2 separate regions of the Homo sapiens genome follow, and region 2 is linked to region 1. A link means that fine-mapping ties the variant in region 1 to the expression of a gene that starts in the linked region. Tissue or cell type: blood mononuclear cells. Region 1 holds a variant in brackets; the other region holds the start of a gene. All regions are shown on one strand. Distances are from middle to middle.

What was found. PIP is the estimated chance that this variant, and not a neighbour inherited with it, causes the effect.
Region 2: it holds the start of EPB41L4A, and the variant in region 1 is fine-mapped to the expression of EPB41L4A in blood mononuclear cells (TOPMed, PIP 0.93).

What each region holds. Positions count from the first base shown.
Region 1 is chr5:112,588,060-112,590,824 of GRCh38, forward strand. No RefSeq gene overlaps it. Among named protein-coding and RNA genes, the nearest start is that of LINC02200, 39 kb to the right of the region's middle. The variant A/G (reference allele first, on the strand shown) is at 1,303.
Region 2 is chr5:112,418,018-112,420,649 of GRCh38, forward strand. EPB41L4A (erythrocyte membrane protein band 4.1 like 4A) reads right to left here and starts at 1,260. Exons shown (of 23, transcript NM_022140.5): 1 at 924-1,260. The coding sequence starts at 1,022. It overlaps EPB41L4A-DT (EPB41L4A divergent transcript), which reads left to right and starts at 1,566. Exons shown (of 1, transcript NR_027706.1): 1 at 1,566-2,632. RefSeq lists a silencer at 1,925-2,014.

The DNA of each region.
Region 1 (2,765 bases):
AGAAAGGTCAGGTTACCCACAAAGAGAAGCCCATCAAACTAACAGCAGATCTCTCTGCAGAAACCCTACAAGACAGAAGAGAGTGGGGGCCAATATTCAACATTCTTAAAGAAAAGAATTTTCAACCCAGAATTTAATATCCAGCCAAACTAAGCTTCATAAGTGAAAGAGAAATAAAATCCTTTACAGACAAGCAAATGCTGATAGATTTTGTCACCACCAGGCCTGCCTTACAAGACCTCCTGAAAGAAGCACTAAACACGGAAAGGAACAACTGGTACCAGCTACTGCAAAAACATACCAAATTGTAAAGACCATCGACACTATGAAGAAACTGCATCAACTAATGGGCAACATAACCAGCTAGCATCATAATGGCAAGATCAAATTCACACATAATAATATTAATCTTAAATGTAAACGGGCTAAATGTCCCAATTAAAAGACACAGACTGGCAAATTAGATAAAGAGTCAAGACCCATTGGTGTGCTGTATTCAGGAGACCCATCTCATGTGCAAAGACACACATAGGCTCAAAATAAAGGGATGAAAAAATATTTACCAAGAAAATGGACAGCAAAAAAAAAGCAAGGGTTTCAATCCTAGTCTCTGACAAAAAAGACTTTAAACCAACAAAGATCAAAAGAAACAAAGAAGGCCATCACATAATGGTAAAGGGATCAACGCAACAAGAAGAGCTAACTATCCTAAATATATATGCACCCAAAGCAGGAGCACCCTGATTCATAAAGCAAGTTCTTAGAGACCTACAAAGAGACTTAGATTCCAACACAATAATAGTGTTAGTAGTGGGGAGTTAACACCCCACTGTCAATATTAGATCAACGAGACAGAAAATTAACAAGGATATCCAGGAATTGAACTCAGCTCTGGACCAAGTGGACCTAATAGACATCTACAGAACTCTCCACCCCGAATCAACAGAATATACATTCTTCTCAGCACTACATTGTGCTTATTCTGAAATGGACCACATAATTGAAAGTAAAACACTCCTCACCAAATGCAAAAGAACGGAAATCATAACAATCTCTCAGACCACAGTGCAATCAAATTAGAACCCAGGATTGAGAAACTCACTCAAAACCACACAACTACATGGAAACTGAACAACCTGCTCCTGAATGACTACTGGGTACATAACGAAATGAAGGCAGAAATAATTAAATTCTTTGAAACCAATGAGAACAAAGACAGAATGTACCAGAATCTCTGGGACACATTTAAAGCAGTGTGTATGGGGAAATTTATAGCACTAAATGCCCACAAGAGAAAACAGG[A/G]AAGATCTAAAGTTGACACCCTAATACCACAATTAAAAGAACTAGAGAAGCAAGAGCAAACACATTCAAAAGCTAGCAGAAGTCAAGAAATAACTAAGATCAGAGCAGAACTGAAGGAGGACGAGACACAAAAAATCCTTCAAAAAATCAATGAATCCAGGACCTGTTTTTTTGAAAAGATCAACAAAATTGATAGACCACTAGTAAGACTAACAAAGAAGAACAGAGAGAAGAATCAAATAGATGCAATAAGAAATGATAAAGGGGATGTCACCACCGATCCCACAGAAATGCAAACTACCATCAGAGAATACTATAAACACCTCTATGCAAATAAAATAAAAAATCTAGAAGAAATGGATAAGTTCCTGGACACATATACCCTCCCAAGACTAAATCAGGAATAAGTTGAATCCCTGAATAGACCAATAACAAGTTCTGAAATTGAGGCAACTATTAATAGCCTACCATCCAAAAAAGTCCAGGACCAGATGGATTCACAGCCGAATTCTACCAGAGGTATAAAAGGAGCTGGTACCATTCCTTCTAAAACTATTCCAAACAATACAAAAAGAGAGAATCTTCCCTAACTGATTTTATGAGGCCAGCATCACCCTGATACCAAAACCTAGCAGAGACACAACAAAAAAAGAAAATTTCAGGCCAATATCCTCAGTAAAATACTGGCAAACCAAATGCAGCAGCACATCTAAAAGCTTATCCACCACACTCAAGTCGGCTTCATCCCTGGGATGCAAGGCTGGTACAACATACGCAAATCAATAAACGCAATCTATCACATAAACAGAACCAATGACAAAAACCACATGAATATCTTAATAGATGCCAAAAGGCCTTTGACAAAATTCAACAGCGCTTCATGCTAAAAACTCTCAATAAACTAGGTATTGATGGAACATATCTCAAAATAATAAGAGCTATTTATGACAAACCCACAGCCAATATCATACTGAATGGGCAAAAGCTGGAAGCTTTCAAAGGTTTTCCCTTTGAAAACCGGCACAAGACAAGGATGCCCTCTCTCACCACTCCTATTCAACACAGTATTGGAAGTTCTGGCCAGGGCAATCAGGCAAGAGAAAGAAATAAAGGGTATTCAATTAGGAAAAGAGGAAGTCAAATTGTCTCTGTTGCAGATGACATGATTGTATATTTAGAAAAGGATATGAACAGACACTTCTCAAAAGAAGACATTTATGTGGCCAAAAAACATATGAAAAAAAGCTCATCATCACTGGTCATCAGAGAAATGCAAATCAAAACCACAATGAGATACCATCTCACACCAGTTAGAATGGTGATCATTAAAAAGTCAGGAAACAACAAATGCTGGAAAGGATGTGGAGAAATAGGAATGCTTTTACATTGTCAGTGGAGTGTAAATTAGTTCAACCATTGTGGAAGACAGTGTGGTGATTCCTCAAGGATCTAGAACCAGAAAT
Region 2 (2,632 bases), 170 kb before region 1:
TCTCAGAAAGCCAGCTCTATCAGAGCGGGGGCGGGGGGGCGGTTTCCCTTCACCAGACTCAGCTGTTGCCTTATCTAAAATGCCTTAGCGATCTAAAACTGAAAGAGAAAGATAAACAAAACAACAAAACGCTCCGGATTTAGATCTCCTTTAGGTAGTTAACACTGTTGCAAAAGCAAAACAAGCACGCAGGCGCGTCGGTCAGGTTGTCACTACAAACATACGTACCTTCTCATCCAATGTAAGGAAGAGGATCTCTGCGAGCTCTGCTGCCTTTTTGTTTGGGCTCTCTAGGTTAATGTAGTGATTGCATTTTAATGACCCACAAACAGGAGCAAAGTTATTACTGGGTCGCTTTGAGAGATGTTTACTTAAATGTGAGGATAAACCCAGGTCGCTGTAGAAAGGGAAAATATTTTCCGTCCAAACGTAGCATTACCCAACTACGAACCCACGCAAAACAATCACAATGACCCATTAATGCGTTTCAACGAGTGAACTAGTTCACTTCCCTAATAACACTGTCAAGGAAAACGCCTTCAACAAAGTCGAGGGAAACCATGCCTTCCACACTGGTGGGACGCAGCTGGTATAACCCATTCTGCCCCTCTTTGAGAGCTGCGGGGCACCCAGAGGCTTTTGGAGAAAACCGGTTTGGGGAAGAGTTTTGGGGTGCTGCTGGGAGCCGGTGTGCTGAGTAAACTTAGAAACGTCAAACTCAACTTTGCTTTATGAAGGAACTCAAAGTTAACTCACCCTGGTACGTCCACCCTCTCCCTGCGCGCAGGGGACAGCGGCCTCTCCTCCCCACCGCGCAGAGTCGCGGCCGCCGCCCTCGACCCACCGGTGACAGCCCTCAAAGCGATGGACCCCCGCACCCGCCCTGCCGCCAACCCCCGGAACGCGCTCCGGGCCGCACCCACCTTGATGCCCTGCTGCTGGGTGGTAAGGGTTAACTTGGATTCATCCAGGAGCAAAACTTCGCAGTAAAATTCTTCCGGAACAGCGCAGAAACAGCCCATGTCGGTTGTGGTCGTCTCCAGCCAGGAGAGAAAGCTACCACCGAGGCGCCCAGCCGCCCCCTCCACTCAAGCGCGATGCATTAATTTATTGTCCGCGCCGTGGCGAGGGTGAGACGAGCAGCTCCCGGCGGGGTCCGGGGACCGGCCGCCGAACCGCCCGGCGGGGCGGGAGCGAGAAAGGCGGAAAAGCCCGGGAGAGTCAGCGCCCGGGAGCCGCCGGGGAAGCGCCGGCGGAACTGGGCGCGGAGGGCGGTGGCGCGTCCCCGCGCATCCTGCGGCTCGAGCTCCTCCGAAGGCGGGGGCGCGGGGCCCCTCCCGCAGTCCTGGGGACGACAAAAGTCTCCTGGCACTGGGGGCAAGAGACCAGAAAAAGGAGTGATGGGAATTCGAGGCTCTCCCCGGCCTTGGAAAACCCTGGAAGCGCTGCACCTCCCTCCTGCCGCACGGATTTGAGCGCGGCCCCGACGTCCTGGCGTCCGATCGGCCTGCGGAGTCCCCCGCGGGCGCGCACTTCCAGCCGCGACCCCGCCCCGCAGCCCCGGGTCAGATCCGCCGAGTATGAAGCGCTCGGCTTTTCTTTTGTGTGAGGAGCACCCACGACGCCCCGACCATGGGCGCAGGGGCAGAGGCGAAGGTCGTCGCTCCGTCCGCTACCCCGTCCCCCAGCCGCAAGCGCCGAGGAGCCGGAAGAGAGGCGGAAAGGGCAGCAGGCTCCTTACCCAGACCAGCGAGGGGAGGTCAGCTCGTCGCGGGGTGTGGCTCCCGTCCGGGGACTCCCGAGCTCATTACGGGTGGCCGTGTGTAGCCAAGTTCAAGCTCTCCCTCCGGGAATGCCTGCCGCGGCGGCGGAATACGGCTTCTTCAGGACATTCAGCAAAGCGGGGAGGCGGGGACCTGCGGGCGGAGGAGCGACGCCCCAGCTGGGAACGCGGCGGACGGGCGAGCGGGGGGTGCGCCCTGGGCGCGCCAGGCCGCAGAGGCTCCGGGGAAAGTTCTCTTGGCCGCGCGAGTGGTGGCGCCCCGGGCGGGAGCAGCCCAGGTGCATGTGGGCCCGGTCCAGGCGTCTGCAAAAAGCCCTGGAACGAAGCGGACCCCCCAGTCCAGCGCTGGCCGCGGCAGGGGAGCCCCTTCTGGGCGGGGTATCAGCTGGGGGCGGAGGGCGGGGCAGAGACCGTGGTCCCAGCGGCGAGGTGCCGGCGAGTCCACGCTGCCAAGCCGCACACTGCGCCCAAGCCGCGGGGCAGTCCAGCGCTCGCTGCGTCCTTCCCCCGAGAGACCTGGAGGCTGGGTGGGGAGAAGAGGACGCGGTGCTGCTCGGACCCCACGGTTCGGCGGTCCCAATCCCACGCCCTCCGCGCGGTCGGCCGCGTCCAGGACTGAGGGGCACAATAGCTCTGAAGCTGCAGTGACCCCTGGTGGGTCCCGATGTCCGTGCACAGGCAGCCGAGGTTGAGCTGCGGACGACACTGAGCCCCGCTGGGCTTCGGAGCAGGTGCAATCTGTGCTCTCCAGCTGGGAACCAGCAGCGAGTTAATGCGAGTCGCAGTTAGGGGAGACACGAGGGGAGGTGTCACAGAAAAAAAACTCTATATTGAGTTTTAGAGTTAGAG